Linked DNA regions of Homo sapiens. The protein of the gene in region 7 purifies or fractionates together with the protein of the main gene of each other region. This does not show direct contact. Each region holds a gene or a part of one and is shown on either strand. Other genes may lie near its edges.

Region 1 (3,118 bases), on a different chromosome or scaffold from region 7:
TCTCTGTGAATTGTTTTGTTAGCTATTTATGAAAATTATGGTAGACAAAACATTGAAAATAAAACTGCAGGGCCACAGAACACCTTCTGGTTATAAATACTTGAACTTTATCTGGGGTTATTTTGTGTGTATGTTTTCATGCCAAGGGAAAAACTCCACAATCCTAATAGATGGAGTTGTTTTCCTACTAACCATATATCCAGTAATGGACTTTACCCTCTTTCTTCTTTTTGATACAGAGCAATTACACATACATATGTGTGTTGCTTCTGAAAAGATCATGCACCTTGCTTCCTGCAGATTGGGTATCCATGGATACCGCAAAGAGTTTCCAAAGAAACACTGCCTAGAATTTTCACCATGCCAGCCTCGAAGGCCTTCAAATGGAAAGTGACATTTGAATTAAAGGGACAAGCATCATTGCTCCACACCAAAACACTGGGCAGGTTTGCAGAAATCGTATTCTTTTTTGCACTATTCAATGTAAAGGCAGACAGGGTGGATTATTTATCCTATAAAAGGGAAAAGAGAGGAAGAAATCGGGTTGATATATTCCCTACCTGAGGCTCAATGACCCCAGTTCCTATTTATATTTCTCACCTGATGATACATGCTTTTACAATAAAGGTCTCAAGATTTATAAGTCAGACAGGGAAAAATATACAAAGGAATACAAGTTGCATTTTTATATGCCCCGGTTTATATCTCTAAATGACAAAAAGTATTGGGAAGAGGGGCAGAGCCTATTAGTAGGTTTACAAGCCTATGATTAGAAGTCTGAAGCAGTCTGCAGTGAAATTCAAAATCTGGCTCAAGAGAGTAAATCTGAATAAGGCAGCAATTTCATCTGGGGAGAGAATACATCACTAGTACATTTTCTTTTCTGGATTCTTATCACTAAATCAGCTGAAGAATCTGTTCTTAAAAGCAATCATAATGAAATTTTCTATTATTCAATGAACCTAGCCTTCGGGGATATCGGTAATTAAGTCAGAATAAGATGATTTTAAATCTCCAATAAATATTCTAATATTTTAGGTGTTTAATATTTATTTATTTAGTTCATAAACAGGCACTGCCACCTCCAGTGTTCATCCATGGCACTTTCATGACCGCTTCCTGTTCTGTGGCTTCTTTTAGTGCCCAAGTTGTATCACATTTCTTGCTGAAGTTCAGACAATTGAAAACAAACAGACTCACATCTAGGGAAATCAACAGACCAACAATGGCAAAACACAATACAATGAAATGGAAAAATAATGTTTGTTACAGGAGTGCAGCAATTTAGAGAGTGTCTCAGGAGTGTGGCTCACTGGCAGCTGCAGCTATGTTAGTGCTTCTTTCTGCCTCAAGTTCAGAAACAAGCTGGACTATCTCAGGGTGATTGAATTTTCCTGCAAAGCAAAAGAACAGGGAAAAATACATTCCCATATTGACAAGAGAGTATATTCATTTCCCCAGCTTGATCCCAGGGTTCACTGGGGGCTCTAGTCTACGATCTGACCCACACTTCATTCCAAAGCAGAAAGAGATTCCAGGTCCTGGGAAGGGGCTGAAGGGGACCACTTGGCATTTACGCTCTGTCACCCCAGGTGCAACTGAGAATAAGGATGAGACTCAGGCAAGGAATCATCAATTAGGCAGAGGTAGGGGAAACTTCACCAGGCTCCTCAGTGCCTCTACCAGGAACTATGGGAAAACTCAGGTGTGAGAGCCCAGAAAGCTGAAGACAATCTCTGCCCATTCCAAACCTGCAATTAAGTAAGGAGAATGAAGCACCTATATATGAAAAGACAAGGAGGAAGATCAGAGGGGCTAGGCTGGCTCATGATGTAAACAAGGATGCAGGTGTCTCTCTTGTAAACACCTCTACACTTCAATTGGCTGATCTGTGCTGTCATCCCTGCTCCTCAGACCTCCCCAGATTTCTGCTTTGGTAGCAACCAAGCTCTAAGCTATTGTATGTCCATGACGGCTAGCATGGGGGACTGTTCAACCCAACATCTCTTCTCTCACCGTCTTTTCTTGCCTGTGTCTGTTGTTGCTTACTGTTCATTCCACATTAAACTCTATTCCATTTATTTCCTATCCTCAGCCTCTTACCCGAATGTTTCCTTCCCTTTCTTTTTAGATGCTCCACATGAAAGGGTCAGATGAAGGTACCAACAGTGGGTTTCCCTAATATTAACATTAGTCACTACACTGAGTAAGCCAAACTAAAATGGACTCTTGTTGAAAATGGTGTTGAGTACCTGCTGTGGAATCATAGAAGTCTTGCAGTCTCCCAGGTTTGTGTTCAAGGTCTTCATATTCAGATGCTTGAAGAATCATTTCACATTGGTCTAGCTGCTTCACAAATTTGGCTTCTGCACTAGATTGGGTCTCGTACTCCTAAGTAAAGGGACAATTAAAGCAGCATGATTAGCGCTGCATAATAGGGTATCCTGGGAAAATTCTGACTCTGGTACCCGAAATCAGAGTGACAGCTACAAGTACATTCTGTATCGGCCCCATTTCTCTACTGTTTAGAAATCCATCAGAGACACTTCTGTAATTTCACAGCCTAACACCAGGACTCTATACAAGAAAGATGTGCTCTCCATTCTAAGTATTCTACCAGAAGCCATGGAAATCTTGTATGTTCATCTTAGGTACTTTCAAGATCTTTTCTTCCTGTTTAATACCGTGTCTTCATTTTAAGACCATTGTTCTTTAATCTACCTAAGTAGTTTAGATATTTTTAACATCAAGCTGATATTTCGTCTTATGCCTCTCAAACCTGTATTTCCCTCTCCATTTCATGTCAGGTTTCCTTGTCATTTCTAAGTGTATTTCTAGCTTTATCATTTACTTTTGGTTACCACTTTACCTGGGAATCTCTGTGCTTACTTTCCACATAGGGTAGATTTAATTAAGTCCCTCTGAGTTAAGACTATTGAGGATAGAGCCAAGATCTGAGGATTTTACATGCACCGGTATGTGCATGTGTTGCAGGTGGGAGGTGGTGAATGTGGTGGGGGGAGCAGTTTTTTTACCTTTCCCTTCCCACTGGTCCCTCCCTCTGCAGTGCAGACTTGGAACAAGAAGCTCCAGGAGTTCTGCTTCTTATAGAATGATG
Region 2 (3,500 bases), on a different chromosome or scaffold from region 7:
GCCACCTTTGACATATTGGTAGAGCTCCAGGGTGTTCCTGCCATCTTTGACATGTCAGTGGAGCTCCAGGACATTCACACCGGGATATTTGTGGATTGTGTAGAGACTTGAAAAATGTTGAGCCTTGGCATCAAAACCAAGATGGGAGCTGTGTCTTGACATGATCGGGAATAGAGGGCACCATACCTGTGACACTGTGTCTCCTAGACTCTGCTTTGCCAAACACTTGGGACCACTTTTACCTAGAGCTTCCTCCATGCACTGTGAAGAGGCAGCACAAGCCTATACCAAAACATCAATTTTGTGTGTGTAACATTAGGAGGGAATCCACCTCAGTGAGAGCAGCAGCCGAGAGAATTGTCTGAGAGTGGTTACTCAATAGCACCTGGTTTGGGTTCTTTTCTCCAATCCCCATCCTCTTTCCAGTGCCCATTCATTACTTCAGGGATGGTTAATTTTGAGCTTAGCTGTTAATGGACATGAGATCAAGTCTCTTAAAAAACAATGAGGCCAGGCATGGTGGCTCATGCCTGTAATCCCAGCATTTTGGGCAAGGCCGGAGGATTGCTTGAGCCCAGGAGTTTGAGACCAACCTGGACAACATAGGGAGACCCAGTCTCTACAAAAAAACAATTTAAAAATTAGCTGGGAATGGTGGCTTGCACCTGTAGTTCCAGCTACTTGGGAGGCTGAGGCAGGAGGATCACTTGAGCCCAGGATGGTAAGGCTGCAGTAAGCTGTGATTGCACCACTACCATCCAGCCTGGGCAACAGAGCAAGACCCTGCCTCTCAAAACAACAACAGCCGGATGTGGTGGCACATGCTTATAATCCCAGCTACTTGGGAGGGTGAGGATTACTTGAAGCCAGGAGTTTGAGACCAGCCTGGGCAAAATAATGAGACCCCCATCTTTAAAAGAACAACAAAAACAAGTTCCTTTTTTGTAGGAGGTCCTTAAAGTGCCTGTCAGGTCATTATAACTAGAATTATGGTCACATTTGGTCTTGCTTTATGGGTGTGGCATAACCTTGGCTATATATCCCAGGATTATAGTGTTCTTTTTCAACATACAAAGATATTTAACCCATTTTCATACTGCTAGTTTTCAAAATGTTAATTTTGCATTGAAAAAGATAATGGTTCAGGCCAGGCGTGGTGGCTCATGCCTGTAATCCCAGCCCTTTGGGAGGCCGAGGTGGGCAGATCACCTGAGGCTGGGAGATCGAGACCAGCCTGACCAACATGGAGAAACCCCATCTCTACTAAAAATACAAAATTAGCCAGGCGTGGTGGCGCATGCCTGTAATCCCAGCTACTCGGGAGGCTGAGGCAAGAGAATCACTTGAACTTGGGAGGCAGAGGTTGCAGTGAGCTGAGATCGCGCCATTGCACTCCAGCCTGGTCAATAAGGGCGAAACTCTGTCTCGAAAAAAATAAAAAAAAAGAAAAAGGTAATAGTTCATTTAGTGTTAACTTTACCTTGTACACATTTGTAAGTGGAGATACACCAACAACTCAACTCCACAGCCCTTATCTAGCTGCTGCTTGGGTGGACCTCTCTACATGATATTACTCTATTGCTTTTATTAAATTCAAAAGGTGCTGCTTTGTAATAAATTTACAAGTCCTAGACATTAACCTAGTAAAATTGGGTTAATGCTACTAAAAATATGTGAAAAGGATAGTGTATTTCGTGTGTCATTTTAAGAATATAATAGTGGTATATCATTTATCCCCTATCAAATTGATAAATATCTTTAAATAACAGCGCTCTGTGCATTTGAAGATTCAAGGACACAAATGCTCTCTCCTAAACTGCTATGGGATCATAAATGTTGAAACCATTCCAGGGGCCCACTGGGCAATAGTTAACAATTCTACTAGGAATTTGTCCTGTGTGCAAAGTTGTAGTTGCAAAGATGCCAATGGTGACAGTGTGTGTAACTGTAAAAGGTTGGATACAACAGATATCTAACTATAAAGGATCAGTTGCAAAAACTATGGTAAATCAATAGAATGTTAAACAGTCATTAAAAATTATACTGATACTGCAGTTGAGTCATGTGTAAATTATACTGAAAGGTACTTAGTGACATTGAAAAATGTTTTAGAATATTAACTGTTTTTTTAAAGGTTAGAACATAGTATGTACAATATTAACCCATTTTTATAAGCAATAATATGTTTATATTTAAGAAAGACAGTAAAGATAGTGGATTAGGATTTTATTTGCACTTACATATTTCTGAATTTTCAATAATATGTATGATGATTAAAATGAGAAAAAAATGAGTCATAATTTTATACTGATATTTATAAGAGTTTTTGATAAGGGGGAAATGGCCTTGAGTGGTGGAGAAACCAGGCTGTAATGTTGGATATGAAGCCTGACCAGGCTGATGCGTTGTGATTACTTGTTTAACTGTTAACCGTAAGCCCTGAGGGAGCAGAGATGGTGTCTGTCTTGCTCACCACTGTATGTTCAGTGCCTGGCATGGCACCATATAGGCACCTATTAAATGGGAGTGAATGAACCAGTCTTGCGGGAGGGTCTTTCTTTTTTTTTTTTTTTTTGAGACGGAGTCTCGCTCTGTCGCCCAGGCTGGAGTGCAGTGGCAGGATCTCGGCTCACTGCAAGCTCCGCCTCCCGGGTTCACGCCATTCTCCTGCCTCAGCCTCCCAAGTAGCTGGGACTACAGGCGCCCGCCACTACGCCCGGCTAATTTTTTGTATTTTTAGTAGAGACGGGGTTTCACCGTTTTAGCCGGGATGGTCTCGATCTCCTGACCTCGTGATCCACCCGCCTCGGCCTCCCAAAGTGCTGGGATTACAGGCGTGAGCCACCGCGCCCGGCCGGGAGGGTCTTTCTTGATGTTGGTTTCTGACGAAGCTCCCCTGTCCTGCTGCATTTCAGAGCCATGGAGAAGCTAAGCGGGCATCAGTTTGAGAACTACTCCTTCAAGATTTCCTACATCCCGGATGAAGAGGTGAGCTCCCCTTCGCCCCCTCAGCGAGCCCAGCGTGGGGACCACTCTTCCCGGGAGCAAGGCCACGCCCCTGGGGGCACTTCTCAGGCCAGACAGATTGATTTCCCGCTGCGGATCCTGGTCCCCACCCAGTTTGTTGGTGCCATCATCGGAAAGGAGGGCTTGACCATAAAGAACATCACTAAGCAGACCCAGTCCCGGTACGTGCCTGTGGGGCTTCCTTTGCTTCCTTCTGAGGGGTCCCCTGCGTGCTGGTGGGTCTCAGCCACTCTTAGGTCACAATTGCTTACATCAGCAGTGGGGGGCTGTGCTGTAAGAGACAGTGGCTTCTTTCAACAGGACTACTAACAGACTAACATCAAGCTGGGGGCTGTGACAAGCTTTCATGCTGAGAGGCTAAAAGTTCATAAAGAGGGTACTGATAACCTCACAGCCAGGACTGTTCCTGTAAGCGAACTAATGCTTATGGATGCATTGATTTCTACAAAAGCAGAGGTTTGGAGCTCTGCGGG
Region 3 (3,500 bases), on a different chromosome or scaffold from region 7:
CAAATAAGACAATCAGTTTCTCTGATTTGAGCATTTTTAGGATATCCCAGCATTTAGCAATATAAGTATCACATGAATAAAGCCAAAATAATATCATGACATAAGCATAGGTGAAAACTAATTCATATTTTTTCCTTAGAGTGAGTAAAATAAGCTGATAAGCTTTGACCAAAAGTTTGCAAATTCCCACCCATCCTTCTGCCCTCCACTATCTGTGTTTACAGTGTGGGGGTGAGGAGGCAGTTGGGAGCCCACAGTGCCAGTGTAGCCAGGAGGAGGAGATATCTGAAATGGGGTTAAGTTTTAAAGGCATAAAGATGATATCACAGAAATCCTGGAGGCAGAAACTCTTGGTAAGATACATTACCTTTCTGCTCAGCCAGCTCCCACAGTTCCTGAGCGGCCGCCAATGACAGTGTCATGGGGTATTCCACAAGGACGTGCTTGCCAGCATTAAGGAACTGCCTTTGGTAAACGAGACAAATACAGAGAAAGAACACTTCGAATAAGCTTCACTGAAATGCTCTGCATAATAGAGAACAGAATGTTATAAAGGCATGAGAGTTTCTGTGTGTGAATGTGTCATGACTGGGGGTAGGAGTCAGTGCCACGGGATATGGAGGAAGAACTGTATCCCACATTGTTTTCTACTATCCTGTGACAGATCAACTTTCTGGTTATGTGTTAATTTGAACATTCAACCATTCATTTATTCAACTAAGTACTATTTACCAATTACTGTGGAGGAGAAATAAAGACACATTAACAAATAAATTTCCTATCACCACATGGTAGCTATAAAGGCTACAAAACCCACAGCGGCTAGCTTTGCCTGAGGCAGTCTGAAAAGATTTCACTAAGGACCTATGAACTGGGTCTCAAAGTATGAGCAGACATTTTCCAGGTGCAACATGTGAGTATATTTCACTGTGAGCAGCGTATGCAGGGGCTTGGGCATTTGTGGGGCTTTGTTCAATCGGCAAACTTCAGTGTGGCAGGGGAGTGGACTACAGGCCGTGGAGGATAATAACGTTGGAAAAGTAGCTGGGGGCCTGACTGTGAAGGACCTACAATTCTGTGCTCAGCAGTTCAGATTTCATTCTGTGGATACCAGAGTACAAATATTTATAAGCATGGGACTTATGTCAGAATCACTTTTCTTAAGGAAATACACTCTGGTGCCAGAAAAGGTTAAGGAAAGCCAAGGAGAGGTGTTTTTGTCTACTCTAGAGCTAGACTGATAAAGAGGAAGCATCTTACCCGTGGGAAACAGCATGGTGGGAGCAGCTGTAAGAACCTAGAAGGAAGCTAGACTGAGGAAGGCAGCTGGCACTTCCCTGTTAGCTGCCAGGTCCTGAGGGTTAAAGGAACTCAACCGTTATTTTATGACATTGAAAGCACAAAGGAGAAAACGTTGGAAGCTGATCCAAACTGAGAAGGGAGTATGATAATTTGCCAAGGATGCCGGCTCCACATCCTAAACTGTCTGGTGAGAAGAAGGAGGCCACTACTGTTGAAAACTACTCTCGATGGGTTTTTACAGAGAAATAAAACACTTTAATTCTGAATGTTTCTAATGTTTCAAATTACACATACTAAATATTAATTTTACTATTTTTCACTTCCTTATATATTTATAACCAGCAATAAGAATTTCTTAATGTTTTGACACTTCTGTGATTGGTCACAGAGCAATTGTAATTTTCTCACTGGCTCTTCTGACTCCTTTGCAGGGTGTTTTAGCTTGCTTGCTCATTTTTGCAGTACTGCACTGCTGTGTAAGGCAAGGACTGCCTGTGTGGAAAACCCACCTGATGTAGTCCTCATGGCTGGAGCTCTCACTGCAGATATAGGCGACCTCCACCTCTTGGCTGGAAAGAGCATCCTCCAAAGAAATCTGCTGGACTCCATCAATGCTCCCGAGCTCCCTTCTATTTCAGAGTAACAGAGAAATGGAACTCAATGGTAGACAGAAGAAAGGAGCACCATCCTTCTCCCCTCCTCCCGACAGGTCCTGGTGATCTGCTGCCAGAAATGAAGAAATGAGTTTCTTCTCTCCCACTTCCAGGCTATTTTCCATTGTGGAGTGAGAAAAATAGCCTCAGAGTTCAAGTCAGGGGATCTGGCATTGAGTGCCAACAGTACCATTCACAGCGTGTATGACCTGGGAGAGTCTTGAATTACTTCATCTCCAAAACAAAAGAAACAGCTGGGCGCGGTGGCTCAAGCCTATAATCCCAGCACTTTGGGAGGCCGAGGTGGGTGGATCACTTGAGGTCAGGAGTTCAAGACCAGCCTGGCCAACATGGTGAAAACCTGTATCTACAAAAAATACAAAAGTTAGCCAAATGTGGTGGTGGGCGCCTGTAATCCCAGCTACCTGGGAGGCTGAGGCAGGAGAATCACTTGAATCCGGGAGATGGAGGTTGCAGTGAGCCGAGATTGCACCACAGCACTCCAGCCTGGGTGACAGAGCAAGACTCCTCAAAAATAAAATAACATAAAAATAAAAGGAACAATCTACTTTTATCTCATGAGAAGTGATCTCTATGGTCACTTCCAGTTCCAAGCACTTGGCCAAACATTGTGACTACCAAACCTAATCCAAATCCAATACGTTAACACATTTAGGGTGCAAACTGGCATGCGACTTCGAGCTACTTTATAGCTAAGCTAACGAAGCCCAGTAGTATGTACGCACACATGTTTGTGTGTGTGTGTGTCTGTGTGTGTGTTTGTGTGTGTGTGTGTGTCTTCCTCCCTCTGGCCGACTGAGCTCATTGGAAGGTGAGGAATTCGTTCTCCATGATTTCTCCTATAATGCCTAGCACATAATAGGCAGTGATAGCCTTGACTAACCAGGAGCAGAAGCAGGAGGGGAACCCAAGGCCTTCTGACTCTTCTAGAGCATGGGGGAGCTGCAGTCTTCGAAGAGCCAAAGCCCCAGCAGTCCGTACACCTCCCAGTGCAGCGGCTGGGGCAGGAGAGTAGCCCTCTAAGGGTGGCAGTCATGGGGGAATGTGGGACAGCTAGCAAGCAGAAGGCCCTCAGCCCGCTCAGAGCTCCAGCTGAGCTGCAGCAGGCAGAAAGCATTCAGGAAAATTTAGCTCCCAAAGAGTATTATGCTAGGTTTCTTTAATGGGGCCACCCAAACTAAATTGCTCAATTTCAGCAATACTTATTGTTTGCCTATTATGTACTAGGCGCTGTAGGAGAAATCATGGAGAACAAATTAAAATCATCGCCTTTCAATGAGCTCAGTCAGCTAGAGGAAGACACACACACACACACACACACACACACGTACATACCACTACCACAAGACTACCAGGAGAAATGTGGTGCTTGGAAGTAGGAGATGGAGACTCAGGGTGGGAAAGGAATACACCAGAAAAGCTTCCTGGGGAGGAGGTAGAACTTAGCAGGTAGGTCAGGAAGGGAAGGGTATGTGAAGAGGGAAACAGTGTGAGTACTGGCAGGGCTGTCATGCAGGGGTGTGA
Region 4 (3,500 bases), on a different chromosome or scaffold from region 7:
GGACACCCTCCCACCCCTACCCAGTATACCAAAACGTGCATACTCAGGTCCTATAGTTGGCCCCTGAGAATGTGGAGCCCAAGTATAGGAAAAGTCAGCCCTCCATACAGATGGGTTTCTCATTCAGACAACACGGTATTTTCCATCTGTGCTTGATTAAAAAAATTCCTCGAATAAATCCTTCAAAGTTCAAACCCCTGTGGCTGAAGGGTCAACTGTATGTATTTTCAAGTATATCACACATAAGGATGACTACTGTTTCACAAAACAATACACAAACACACAAACATGCATTTAAGCATAAACAGCGATTCAACACCAACATTTACTGAGCGATCACATGCAAAGCCCTGAGCCCAGGGATACAGATCCAGGCATTAGCAGCCCAAGGTCAGGGACACCACTCTCCAGACCACGATGTCGACATCAGGGCCATCCTTACTTTAGACCAGCAAGTGAGAAATCCAGGTTCCCCAGGGCTCCCTCAGGTTTGATAATTCCCTAGAATTACTCCCCAAACTCAGGAAAGCAGAACACTTACCATTACAATTTCATTATAGTAACAGCAACAAAAACAAAAACAAACAAACAAACAAAACAGCCAAAGCAAGTGACCTATAGGGCACATTCTGGGAGGTTCCCTAACAGGTAGCTCCACTGTCCTCTGGGACACCTTACTCTCCTGTCATCAACATGAGACAATATTCAAAGAGCACTGCCAACCCAGGAAGCTCCTCAGAGCCATAGTGCTCTGAGGTTTTATTGGGGTTTTCGGAGGGAGACACAATGGGTTGAATCACTGGCCATTCAGCTGAACTCTATCTCCACTTTATTTATTATATTTATTATAATAAAAGTGGGAAAATGAATGCTGATAAACAATACACTACAGCAGCACAGAAAAAGAACGATGCTACAAAGCAAAAACAAGATATAAGAAAATTTCTTACCAGAAAAAAGAAAGATTAGAGATGATATTAAAAGGATGATCAGGATCTTAATGGACAGAGGAAGGGAAAGGCATTTAACTCAGAGGGATTGTGGCACTAAGCAGGTGAGGCTGCGATGCTTCAGGTACAGAGAGCCAGTGTCTGGAAACTGACGGGCTGGTATACAGGAGCCCTAAAACACTGGGCCAACATTTGAACTTTGCGTAGCCACTATGAGGAGAAATAGAAAGTCCTATGGAAAAGGGTAATATGACTTATTCAACAAACATATTTTGTATGCCAACTCTATGTGCCAAGCACTGTGCCCTAACCTGAAGACAGAAAGTTGTTTAAAACACAGACCCTTCCTACAAGTTACCAAAATTACCGGCACAGCTAAGGAAACACTAGAAGAGCACATGACTGAATTGGAGAGACCTTGTAAGAGGCTCGTATGAAGGAGCAAATACAAGACAGTGTCAGAGTGGAAAGGTGTGGCAGCTTTCCTCACCCATCATAAAGGTCATGGAAGATACTCCTGTAACAAAAGACAGGTTAACAAGAGCCTTCAGAAATGAAGACCCAAAGACCCAGGGAAACGGTTTTGATGCTTAGATGACCAATGCACAGCTGTGTAGAAATGGCACTGGACAAAAGGAAATGATCCAATGGTAGCAGACTGAGGGAAACCCAGCAGGGCCACAGCATTTCCTCCCCCAGGAATGAGGCAGGGCCCCTCTGAAATGCTGTCTTCAAGAGAAGGCAAAAGGGAGAGAGTGATCTTTCTAGGTTTTATGGCTTGCTTTGCAGGAGAGGAGTTCTAGTTTCTATGATCTGCGCTGGGGAAGATAAATGATGGTTTCTACGACCTTGCTTCTGGGGCTGCTCTGAGGCCTTCCAGTCTCCTTAATGCCAAAGCACCACACTGAGTCCAGACATTAGGAGCTGAATTTAGGAAACAGATACGAAAAAGAGGAACTGTGAGAATAGGCAGCACTAACTAAGAGTTTACTCTTTATCACTATTAGGGTCTTCTGTTTATGATAAACAAATACAATGAGGATCTTCTAGTGTTGTAAAACACAGCTAATTCCCTAGTTCAGAAAACCAACTCACTGCCTTACTACAGCCTTCAGTTTCTACATTGTAAGACCTAAGCATATTACGTACTTTTTTCCCACAGAGACTGTAGTTTCCACAGCAGTAAAAAATCTTACCTACAAACCATAAAGGGAAAGACAACAAATTAGCCTTGAATACCCTCTATATGCTAATTTGTGTTGTGAAGTTTTTCCTTTCGACATTCTAAATTTTGTTTAGTTTTCTAAACAGGTATTGTCATCAGCACTATTTTAATTATTGAAAGGCTTCCCATGGGTGTGTAACTCTTTTACTTGTCACCATATACCCTGGGAATATTTTTAACAGCAAACATTGTATTCCAAATTAAGACAATTATTATTTTGGATCTGTAGAACAACAGATGCCTAGTATCTCAGCATCTAAAAATATAATAAAGACTAGCCCCACACGTTTACAAATAATTATCTTTAACTGTAAAATAACAGCTTACTTTCCCCACAACAATATGAAAACTTGCATTATTAACTGTCCTAAAGGCTAGCAGTAGCTTGCCCTGTTGATTTCGAAAGTTGATGCCACCAAATTTTGTTATGAAAAAATGGAGCACCCCGGTCATCAGTGAAACACTGCATGTACTTCAGGTTTCGCCTATCAAACAAGTTCTAAAAACAGAACATTCCATCTTCAAATGCCTTTAAAAAATGTTTCAATCTGTAAAGTCTCAAGTTTGTCTTTTCCAAATTAGGCAGACTATTTTATACCCTTCTTCAGCATCTTCAATTCAAGGATGGAGACTCATAAAAGGCAGATAGGCTCTGGGAGGGTGGGGCTGTGTCTGCTATACCTGGTAAGAGACCCAGCACCCAGTATGGGTGTAGCCCAGAAGTAAAGTGACTCCACCAGCATGTGCTATCTCCACCAACCATGCTGGCTGGGTCATGGCTCCTGCATCATCTTCACTAATAAGTCTCTATTGCAAAAACATAAAGCACCCTTCATAATTGTGCTGTAGTAAGGAGCTCAATTATTTTCCATCATTAGCTTCACCAATGAAAAACCTCTGATGCTTTTCTACACTTCAATCTCAATAGGGTCCAAACAAATGCTTTGAATGAACAAAGTTTTTTACATTTCAAAAGCATACAACTCTTACTGTCCTCTATATGGCTACCAAGTAAAATGCCATTTACCGCTCAAATTCCCTCAGAATGCAACCAGTAAAGGCATGCTCCACCTCCAGTTTCATCTCAAAACAACAGCTGAAACTCTTCTTTTTTAAACTTAAATTTGATCACTTCCCACCTCTGCTCAAAACCCTCCAATGTTTATTCAGAGTAAGCCCAAGTCTTCACATGGCCTCCCAAGATCTGGACCTAAAACAGGGGTCTGAAAATCGGCTCATGGTCCACTGCCTTTATGTACAGCCCACAGCGGTAAGAATAATTTTTACATTGTTGAGTAGTTGGAAAAAATCTAAAAGTAGAGTAC
Region 5 (2,636 bases), on a different chromosome or scaffold from region 7:
GAACGCCTGACCTCATGATCCACCCGCCTTGGCCTCCCAAATTGCTGGGATTACAGGCGTGAGCCACCGCGCCCGGCCGTCTGTCTGGTTTTCAAACCAATCAATGAACCCGTAAGCCTCTTTGGTATATATAACAATGAAAAAATTCATTAAGCCATGAAATCTAGAAATAAGTCATATTTCTGAGTTGATAAAATGCTTTTCTGAACATACATTTTAGGTATCTGGCACAATTAACCAAATGTCTGCCCATTTTTGTGTAGCTTTCATACAGTACAGATTTCATTGATGTCGCTCCCACATCTGAGTATTAAAAACATTTGACATTGTTCTTCTCAGTCCTCACAACACCCCTGTGAGGTAGGTGGTATTGACCCCATTCCACAGATGGGGAGGTCTAGGCACGGAAAGGTTTAGTGGCTCCTCACAGGCCGCGTGGTGGGGCAGCAGAGTGGTGCTCTGGCCCCGCGCCGACGCCGCCTTCACATTCACACTTCTTCAGTGCCACCGCAACACTGCATGGCAGGATCTCACGCTGAGGCCAAGTTCCTGTCTAGTCCAGAATGAAGCCAGCGTCTCACCTCTTAAAGCTTCGATGTGTGACTCAAAGCCAACTTACTCTCCCAAACTTGCAAAACAAACATACTGACTGAATCTTAGTTGGGACTATTTGCAGTATTTAAGATTATTTTTGAGAGTCAATCTGCTTGGATTTGTAGTTGTATATGCTCAAATCCCTTTGGAAAACAGTTTGAAATGACATGAGGGACAATGTAATTTTGAGAACAGAACACAGAAAACAAGAGTTCTGAGACTGGCATTGAAATTGAGAATATAAGCTATGGTAAAATGAGAATCAAATCCCAAATAAACGGAGAGCAGCACTTCTCAATGTTTAAGGCCACGCACAGGGCAGGCATTCAGTAAGCACTTCTTGGATCAAAAGAAACTGATGCTCCTTTGAGCCGCCTATCACTGACAACAGGAGCTGAGACCCCCGGGAAAGCCAGCCAGGGCCATGATCCCCTTGGCCTGGGGCCACGGTCACACAAAGCCACTCAGCCAAATCGTGTAGAGTTATCTAGGCTTACTTGCTGCAGGATAAAAGTTGAACTAGAACACCAAGCATTGAGCTAGGAATACCCCTTTGAATGTGTACTGCTACTTATAAAAAATAGGTATGTAGCTATGATTAAATAGATGAAGGGCCAAAGCATCCTATGAGGAAGTATTTTTAAAATTGTATAGATGTTCATGCAGTGGGGGACAGAAATAAAGAGGTTAAAGCGGTCTGTGTTTTTCGGTTAAATGAAAGGTTGTAAATGCATTTTTACCGCTGATAAGAAGGGGTACCTGCTACCCCTTTCTGCTGTGGAGTGTTGCTGAGGACAGAGTCCATCTCTCCCAGCGAGTCCTGGTTATCCTTTACTTACACTCTGGCCTCGGGGGCAGTGGCGTGTGGCCTCGGTCCTCCCCAGGTAACTCTGGAGGGCGCTGTGGAATATTGCTGTGATTTGCCCCTTACTCGTCTTTCACCCATGTTCCGCCTTGATTCGGCATAAGGACAGACTGCTCCAGTGGGGCCTTGGGTCCTCAGGCCTTCTGACCGCTTGGTCTTGAGTGACATTCCAGAAGAGTGACTAATGACATAAAACGATTAAGAAAATCCATGTGGCAGCGGCCAACCGGAAACAGTTTTGTCCCAGGCTGCACAGGGTCGGAGGCCCCAAGGTCACCGGGGCCACTGCCCGTCACAGGTCCACCTTGACCCCCTTTATGAAAGGCAGGCCCGTGGGCACCCTCTTCTTATACTCCAGGTACTCCTCTCCAAAAAAGTGAATTAGTGAGATTTCTTCTTCTTCTGTTCGATCGCGGAAGAATCGCCACACTGTCAGGGCATAGCTGACGCCGCAGATGGGGTTACACAGCATCACCTAACAGAGGGAGACACCAGGCTCATCAGGGTGACCGTGGGATGACGCCCTGTGCTTTGGTAGGCGTCTGTCTCTAATACCCAGAGGATTTCTGTGCCCATGCCCTGCTGAGACCGTCAGGGTCTCTGGGAGCAGTACTGTCACCTTAGCCCTGAGCACTCAGTGCTGCAGGCCTTTCTCACGTGCTTTCCTGTTGCTCCTCTTACATGAGAGAGATCTGTAAATCACAAGATCAACCTCTTGGATTTCAACCCTCAGCTTGGGGTGACAGCAATGCCCCCCACCTCCAGGTGTGAGCTCCCCAACATGAGGTCCCATGCACGCTGCCTTCCTGCCCAGGACCCTCCCACCACAAATGCATTCGCTTACACCACAGCTGCCTGGGCCTCTGCCTCCTAAACCCACAGCCTCTGCTTCAGCACGAGATACAGTGCCACAAAACTCAGCTTCCGAAATGCCCCTTCCAGCAGATTACCTCCACGCTCAGAGAGCTCCAGAGACTGAACCCCACCCCCTGAGTCTGGGTTTCCAACCCCAGAAGAGCAGCACTTCGCCCACTTCCCCAGTCTCCTGCCCTCCCCACGCTGTGCCCACTTTGCCTCTTTTTTTTCCCCCGAGACAGATTGTCACTCTGTCACGTGGAGTGCAGTGGCGTGATCATGGCTCACTGCAGCCTTAACTGCTTGGGCTCAAGTGATTCTC
Region 6 (3,500 bases), on a different chromosome or scaffold from region 7:
AGAACAGATCAGGGAAGCTGTCTTTATGCTGCCAGAAACATCTATGGAAATGAATTTTCTTATTTCAGTTGCACATATGACTTCTGCCAATCAAGGAGCTGAAAGCATGAGGCTTCTAAGAAGCTGCATCTCAATGAGCCAAAACATAACATTGAACAAACTCAACTACAATATAACTAGAATTTCCTTCTACAATTAGTGAACTAGGTGCTAATTCTAGTATCAAAGAAATGAGGAAGTATATTATATTTGACCAATGCCCCCCGTATAAAGAAAATAATCTACAGTTACTCTTCCTCTTAAAGCATTTGAATTGTAATCCTAGAGAAGGTGTTCTTACCCTGTGAATAATTCCAGCAGAATGGAGGTGCTTAATGCCACACAACATTTGGTACAGCAGGTAAGACATTCGCTCATGGTCTAATTCCATCTGAATCACTTGACATAAGTTGGCATCCATCAGTTCCATTACTAAGTAACTAGAAGGGTGAATCCACAGTGTTAGTTCCAGATCACAAGATCTATGAAGTCCTTTGATTTAGTCAGAATGCTCTCCTAACTCTGTAAGTCTTCTGAACTTCTTAGCTCTGCCTTTGACTTAATCAAGACTGAGCATTTCCAGGTATTGCATGTGTGTTAGCTATACGAACCCTACCAAAAGGTTGCTAGTAGAAAAAGCATTTATTAATGTCTGGTTCATGTCCACAGATTTGTTACCTTAATTTTGCTTTCACTTTCCCCTGTATTCCCTCAACTCTTTTGTGAATATTATAATTTCAAATAAGAAAAAAATTAAGGACAGCTTCTTCCATTAAATTCAATGTATCTGTATTAAAGACAAGGTGCTAGGGAATCACTTCCTCTCCTCCATCTGTTGTCACTACTGGGTAGACTTTGCACAAAATCAATGACACTATAAAGATAGAAAGAATAAAGATAATTTTCACGTCCCTTTTATTACTATTTCTTTTTGTTTGTTTGTTTTGAGACGGAGTCTCGCTCCGTCACCCAGGCTGGAGTGCAGTGGTACGATCTCAGCTCACTGCAACCTCCGTCTCCCGGGTTCAAGCAATTCTCCTGCCTCAGCCTCCTGAATAGCTGGGACTACAGGTGCATGCCACCACACCTGGATAATTTTTGTATTTTTAGTAGAGGTGGGGTTTCACCATGTTGGCCAGCATGGTCTTGATCTCCTGACTTTGTGATCCACCTGCCTCGGCCTCCCAAAGTGCTGGAATTACAGGTGTGAGCCACCATGCCTGGCCTTATTACTATTTCTTCAGGTAAATTAACTCATTGTAGAAAGTTTGTGGAATCTATTAATAAATATAAATAAATAAGCCTTCCCTGAGTGACCAAGAGCATGGAACAACAAAGTATATAAAGCCACAAGGCCAAAAGGAGGCAGAATGTCTTTCCAGGAAGTAACCCCACAAACAGAATCTTCTTTACATATCACTGGACCCCTTTCATTTGACCCCACCTCTTACCTCTCTTTGAGCAGTATAAGGGATTTCAACTCTGTGTGTGTGTGTGTGTGTGTGTGTGTGTGTGTGTGTGTGTGGTGTGTGATTTTCCCTTGGGCTATCTGAGTGCTGTGCTCTCCCTTCCTTCATGAGTTTTGTTACTTACACATCTTGGAACTCCTCCAGCGTTTTCTGGGGTGTGAAGACATTTAATAAACTAATAATCTGAAAGAGAGTGGAAGGGACAGAGGAAACGAGAGAAAGAAAAAAGAGAGAGAATGTATTATTTTTAAATTGTATTTCAACTCAAAGTCACTCACTAGTGCTATGGCAGAAATGGAGAAGTTGGAAAAATGTCTTGAGCTGTCTCAGAGGACACAGAAAAGTATGCTCAGAAAGAACAGATGATCTGTCTTCAGGTTAATAATGCAGCTAAAAAGCTCAATTCTTGGGCAGAAGCAAGAGTCAGAGAGATGCATAATTGTTACACTGCTTTCAAGTGTGATTCCTCGTGGCAGAATATGGGCCTTCGGGGGATTAAACAAAAAAGGAAGAAATGCCATGTGAGGAGAGAGGTGGCAGTAAAACACTCAGTGAGACTTAGCAAGGGGATACTTCTCCAAATGAACAAAGTTGTGTTCTACTTCATGATTTTTTTGTGTTGTTACTTTATATTTTTTTTTACTTCTACCTCACACTCAAATATTAAACTAATGCTCCAATAATATGTGTGGGGAAAGGTGCATTCTAGATGATATCAATGATGGATTTAATAGAAAATTATTTTAAAGTTATTTAAATTCAGTTAAAAGCTTTTTGTTTCCTGCTTTATTTTATATATCAGCTAGTAAAAAAATCTACCTTCTAGTATAAGCAAATTTTGTAAAAACCCCTTGTCACATTTCTCAGTAGAGTACATACATCAATAACTCAAAATGTTCTTCCAGCTAAATATTTGGTACTAACGTGCCAGTAGGAAATGAATATAAAAATATATAAAAATCTTATACTCACAAGATAGTTGCAACTATTTTATAAAAATTAGATAAGTACAAGGTCAAGATTTAAGCAGCTTCAAAGCATCAATCAATGAATTTCAGTAAACTTTATAAATGATATAAAGACATGTGGAGTAATAAACATAAAACAAAATTAGTTTAAACACCTGAGAAATTGACTCAATTCTATGGAATGTTTTATGTCTCACGTAGTTTTAACTGATTGAGAAATTATTGACAAAAAATAACCACAGTACCATCCAATATTTTCTAGTATACATATATATGGCAATGTTGTAATATAGTTTTAAAAATACAAGATCATCTCTTCTAAAGCAACCTTGCAGTGTGGAATATTCATATAGAAATAAAATTGTTTTAAAATTATCTTTATAACTTGTGATTAAAGTGCCATGTTATTCTGTGTACTCAGTGCTAGTGAGTGTTGAAAAATGACTATGAAGTACACCTTTCATTGGAACATCTACAGTGGGTCTGTTTCTCTAGGACTTTATCAATCTCATAAAGTAATTTATTTCATTTTGCTATTTGTTCAAACAAAAATATTAGAGACTGTGTATACAGCACACATTACATCCACACAAACATTCACATGAACACTACTTAAAAATGGAAAAATGCTAACCCAGATCACTTAGTGAACAAATAATCTAGATAATTTAAAAAATATAGAAAATAGCATTACAATTTTAAATAAATCAAGATTTATTGTTTTAAAAGGTAATTTATCAAGATCTATTCCCTACTGTATGTTCTTATTTTCCCTTTTCCTATGACCTTGTTTTATTACTTTTTACTCTTCGAGAATTTCTCTTCTATCCTTCATTTGCTCTCTTGTAAATTCTAATTCCTACCAATAGTCAATTTTAAAAAGGCATCTGTAGAAGGAGATTATCACAGCTATAAAATTTCCATTTTAATCCAACAGTTTCCAGACAGGAATCTCAGTTCTTTTATTCCAGCATCTTGAGACACACAGATGTGAATCTATGTTTGTCAGGCCCCACTAGTTCCT
Region 7 (4,055 bases):
TATATTCTCATATGTATATGTGTCGTCGGGAATAATACTGGTAGGTATGTCAAGCATGAAGAGATTCTACAAAAAACAGGGGCGAGCAAAAAGAAACCGGATCACACACTGAGTCCTTTCTCTTCTGCCCCATTTTGTCAGATGGACTTGATGTACCCACTATATATTGGTCCCGAATGTGCTGAGTTCAGCAAATGTCTTGACGCTAAGTCATCACCATAACTGCTTAGAAACCCAGAGGAACTCGGGTGAAGTTAAATAAATAAGGACCAGCCCTCTCGAGCCCCTCCCAGAGTTATTGCATTTCTCCTCTCAAGGAGCATGGAGTCCCAATGGGATGTGAAGAGCCTCACCTCCCGTGGCCTTTCAGCAGCTGGGAGAGGTCGTAATGGGGCTCTGAAGGTAGCTCAGCGCACTGTTCGTGGAGTGGACAGGGATGGAGACGGGGAAGTTGAACACGGTGGTGGTGGAGGTGCCTCGGTCGAGCACAGCCATGGCGGGGCTCCCAGCCTCTGCCGAACAGTGCGGAGCCAGCACCTGGGACTCAAACTGCAGCAGCTGGCCCATGAAGCTGAAGTTGGGAGAGATGATGCTTCGCCTCTGCTTCACAAACTCAAAGGCCTCGTCCAGCTTGACTCGATTAGTCCTCATAAGGTAAGCAAGGCAGATGGTGGCTGACCGGGAAATGCCTGCCTGGCAGTGGACAAACACCCTTCCTCCAGCATTCTTGATGGAGTCTGGAAAACCAAAGGAGCGGCTGGTTACTTGAGAGTTCAGGAGAACCACCCCAAGCCCAGGTACAGTGTATCTGAGAAAGGTCATGTGTGTCTTGTCTAGAAATGGTCAACATCACCACATGCCATCACATGGATACTGTTCATGGAGGCAACGTGGGCACTGTGCAAAGGATGGCACAGGATTTAAACTCAGACTGGGGATTTCCACTTAGCAGATAGATCTCAGACCAGTCAATTCAACTTTGTGAGCCCCACTTTGCAAATCTGTAAAGTGGGACATCGAATCAAATTCATATTTTACAGGAATGTTGCCCACACCAGACTGATACTGAATGTGTGGAAGAAGGCTCAGAAAACTTCAAGCTCTTGCCACAGAGGTTGGGCTTAGTGGCTAAAATGAGAAGAGAAAGGCAGAAAAGCCCCAGGCATCCATTCCATTTACCTATGAAGTCAATGGCCTCGTTGAACCAGGAGCTGATGTCTGCCTTGTGGTTGTCCTCCACAGGGATGCTCTTGTACTGGTAGTGACCCTCAAAATGGTTGGGACAATTGGCTGAGACGTTGATCAAGGCAGTGATGCCCAAGGCATCCAGCATGTCCTTGCGGGAAGCGTGATACGCACTGCCCAGGTACAGAAAGGGCAGGATTTCCACCGGGCCACCCTGAAATCCAGAAATATCCAACATTCATCAAGCTTGCTCAAAGCCAAGGCCAGTGCCCATACCCACAAAAACTTTCTGCTGGAAAAGTCAATTTCAGATACCGAGTGAACTCAGTTCTGTTGCTGGAGGATAAATAAATAGGGAACTAAGCCCATTTGCCTGGGCAGGACCAGCAAGTTCATTTCCGTAGAGCCTACAATTGGAGACTCGGCTCCGTCAGACCACTTAACTGTGGAATAAATCATATCCCTGTGTCCCCTCCGTTATAAATAATGCTGCAGGTCACTTTCTATATTCTCCCTGGCACTACTCTTCCATGCCTTTGCCAGTTCTTACTTCTTCCCTGTGGCAGGGACACCTACTAACCTGATCGTAGAGTGGGGTACTGCAGGAACTGCACCCAGATTCCGCGCTGTCAGGGACGCTAGTACTCAGGGGAAGGCTGAGCCCCATGGGGGTCGACTGTTTGCTGCACAGCTCCGGGCAGGAAGCCGAAAACGCTTCGTATCCTCCTGGGAATACAAAGACATTTTTTTTCCCCATTAGTGACACCGGGACACGGCACCTTCATACAACTCCCCCACCCACCAAGGGCTGGAAGTTTACATCGGAAAGGCCCAGGCAAGTCTTTGTTTCCAGAGCCAAACAAAGCCAATGACAAGTTCCAGAGATAAATGTACTCCAGCGCCCACGCGCTGCAGGTGGGGCGATCCCCCGGGAGCCGAGAGCCAGGGGTACCGGGCAAAACCTCAGGGGTGTGCGGCCCGCCCCGAGCTTCCCCGAGGGCGTACCTTTGAGGAAGAAGACTTGCGCGGCGCGCGCCTCGCGGCAGAGCGCGCCGGCCGCCAGGGCCAGGGTGCCGTCGCGCTTGGCGCCGTCCAGGGCGGCGCTGCGCTCGTCCAGCAACACCACGGCGTGGTAGGCGCCGGCCAGCAGGCGGCCGCGGAGCTCGGCGTTGGGCACGATGTGCTCCAGGCCCATGGCGCCCTTGGCCCGGCGCCGCACGATGGTGCTGAAGCGCACGTTGACAGAGCCGGCGATGTGGCCGGCGTTGAAAGCGAAGAAGGAGCGGCAGTCCAGCAGCAGGCATTGCGCCGCTCGCTCCCCCAGCAGCGCCCGCAGGCCTCCAGCGTCCAGGGTGCCCACTTCCATGACCATGGCCGGCCTCAGCGCCCCCAGCGTGATCGGCCCTGCGGTGCTCTTTGTCTGTTCTCGGGGCCAAGGGCAGGGCGGCGCTTTTCGAGGAAAAGCTAGACCCCCGGGTCTCTCTGCGCCGAACCAAAAGCCGCTTTTGGACTGAGAGAGGAGCGTCACGCGGGGCTCCGGGCTCCTCGGCTTCTTCGCGGTTCCCCCGACTGCCCCTCCGACCCGCGTCGCACACACAGCCCAAATGTCCTTCGCAGCGAGCCTGGCCCGGGGAGCGCGTTTATATGCGGCCTCTGGGGGACGGGGCGGGCCAGACCCGCGCGCAGGGGGAGGGGGGGTGTTTGTTTGAATGGTGATCACGTGACGGGGCGGTGACGTCACCCGCCCTGCCAGGCCAGGCGCCGCCGAGCCAGAGGGGGAGACGTCATCAGCCTCGGAGCTGGGTCCGCTCGCCGCGCGCTGGCTCGCGGCCCGGCCCCCGCCCTGCTGTCCGGCCTGCTCTTGGCGCGTCCCCAGGGACCGGACCCGCGCCGCGCTCCAGGCCCAGCGGGGAGGAGGAGGGCTCGCTGCCAGCTGAGGCTGACCTCCGGGATGCGAGCGGCCGGGAGAACGGGCGACGTGCCACCTGCCTTGGCCTCGCCGCTCCTCCCTCTCTCCCTCCCCGAGTCCCCTTCCCCGTGCCCCTCGGCCGCCGACCTGAACCGAAAGGGGCTTCCTGTGCTTTTGCATACTCTTGTGCCCCTTTTCCTCATTTCCTCATCACTAACAGGCGGGGAAACTGAGGTTCCCCAGGCGAAGCGACTGACTTGCCCAGAACCACACTACTGGGGTGGGGGCAGCAAATAGGCGCCTAAGATGAAGTTTAGAGAAAAATGAACAACTCTGCCGATAGAAAAGTCGTCCCTACCAAGACCGACTCGAGCGAGTTGGGGCGGAGAGGTTCAGGGCAATGCTTTCCTGTTTCCCAGACTTTTCTTTAAGGTGGCTTTAAAATATCTACATTTGCCATGAAAGTGTGAGCAAGCAAACTCCCACCGGGAAATAATGCTATTCCTAGTCTTGTGGCCCCCGGAAGACTTGGAGCCAAGGGAGGCAGGTCAGGGGGCTGAAATCCCGGTGAGGGGTCGCAAGGCCCCGCAGTGGATTCCAGGGTTTGGCGTTTGGAGGGGTGAGGGGCGACCCGCAGCGCGACTCGACGGCGCCCCCCAGGGGCCGCCCGACACGTTTCTGTCACCTTGGCTCCAGACTGAGCTTCTCCATCCCTTTCTTTATTATACAAATAGGCAGTATACACAGTGAGCGCCCACTAAGCGCTGGGCTGGGGGCCTCCAACCCGGAACAGAAGCCGGCCACAACCCTCGCTCCCTGTCGTCGCGGCCGTTATAGGCCGAAAGCAAAATCCAATCCCGGGCCATTGTGGGCGGATTGCCAGGACCTGGATCGCAACACTTGGGAAGACCCCCGCCCCGCCCAGCGATCTCCGTGCCCTGAGTCCCAGTGACGGCCCCCT

Evidence for each region.
Region 1: the proteins of DUSP1 (region 7) and HDDC2 purify together in Homo sapiens (affinity purification with mass spectrometry, with the first as the bait; one large-scale study listed by BioGRID). This does not show direct contact.
Region 2: the proteins of DUSP1 (region 7) and IGF2BP2 purify together in Homo sapiens (affinity purification with mass spectrometry; one large-scale study listed by BioGRID and IntAct). This does not show direct contact.
Region 3: the proteins of DUSP1 (region 7) and BLVRA purify together in Homo sapiens (affinity purification with mass spectrometry, with the first as the bait; one large-scale study listed by BioGRID). This does not show direct contact.
Region 4: the proteins of DUSP1 (region 7) and ACP1 purify together in Homo sapiens (affinity purification with mass spectrometry, with the first as the bait; one large-scale study listed by BioGRID). This does not show direct contact.
Region 5: the proteins of DUSP1 (region 7) and ICMT purify together in Homo sapiens (affinity purification with mass spectrometry, with the first as the bait; one large-scale study listed by BioGRID). This does not show direct contact.
Region 6: the proteins of DUSP1 (region 7) and MAPK10 purify together in Homo sapiens (affinity purification with western blotting, with the first as the bait; one study listed by BioGRID). This does not show direct contact.

What each region holds. Positions count from the first base shown.
Region 1 is NC_000006.12:125,274,850-125,277,967, forward strand, and holds the end of HDDC2 (5'-deoxynucleotidase HDDC2), read right to left. Parts: intron 2,392-3,118; coding exon 2,253-2,391; exon of another isoform or gene 2,252-2,252; intron 1,395-2,251; coding exon 1,297-1,394; 3' UTR 501-1,296; downstream 1-500. UniProt on the Homo sapiens protein: Catalyzes the dephosphorylation of the nucleoside 5'-monophosphates deoxyadenosine monophosphate (dAMP), deoxycytidine monophosphate (dCMP), deoxyguanosine monophosphate (dGMP) and deoxythymidine monophosphate (dTMP).
Region 2 is NC_000003.12:185,689,043-185,692,542, reverse strand, and holds part of IGF2BP2 (insulin-like growth factor 2 mRNA-binding protein 2), read left to right. Parts: intron 1-2,915; coding exon 2,916-3,188; intron 3,189-3,322; exon of another isoform or gene 3,323-3,435; intron 3,436-3,500.
Region 3 is NC_000007.14:43,789,680-43,793,179, reverse strand, and holds part of BLVRA (biliverdin reductase A), read right to left. Parts: intron 1,932-3,500; coding exon 1,812-1,931; intron 466-1,811; coding exon 368-465; intron 1-367. UniProt on the Homo sapiens protein: Reduces the gamma-methene bridge of the open tetrapyrrole, biliverdin IXalpha, to bilirubin with the concomitant oxidation of a NADH or NADPH cofactor. Does not reduce bilirubin IXbeta.
Region 4 is NC_000002.12:267,947-271,446, reverse strand, and holds part of ACP1 (low molecular weight phosphotyrosine protein phosphatase), read right to left. Parts: intron 1-3,500. UniProt on the Homo sapiens protein: Acts on tyrosine phosphorylated proteins, low-MW aryl phosphates and natural and synthetic acyl phosphates with differences in substrate specificity between isoform 1 and isoform 2.
Region 5 is NC_000001.11:6,223,329-6,225,964, forward strand, and holds part of ICMT (protein-S-isoprenylcysteine O-methyltransferase), read right to left. Parts: intron 1,935-2,636; coding exon 1,752-1,934; 3' UTR 1-1,751. UniProt on the Homo sapiens protein: Catalyzes the post-translational methylation of isoprenylated C-terminal cysteine residues.
Region 6 is NC_000004.12:86,101,554-86,105,053, forward strand, and holds part of MAPK10 (mitogen-activated protein kinase 10), read right to left. Parts: intron 1,692-3,500; coding exon 1,633-1,691; intron 480-1,632; coding exon 341-479; intron 1-340. UniProt on the Homo sapiens protein: Serine/threonine-protein kinase involved in various processes such as neuronal proliferation, differentiation, migration and programmed cell death.
Region 7 is NC_000005.10:172,768,396-172,772,450, forward strand, and holds the start of DUSP1 (dual specificity protein phosphatase 1), read right to left. Parts: upstream 2,801-4,055; 5' UTR 2,558-2,800; coding exon 2,191-2,557; intron 1,912-2,190; coding exon 1,766-1,911; intron 1,400-1,765; coding exon 1,180-1,399; intron 738-1,179; coding exon 367-737; 3' UTR 1-366. UniProt on the Homo sapiens protein: Dual specificity phosphatase that dephosphorylates MAP kinase MAPK1/ERK2 on both 'Thr-183' and 'Tyr-185', regulating its activity during the meiotic cell cycle.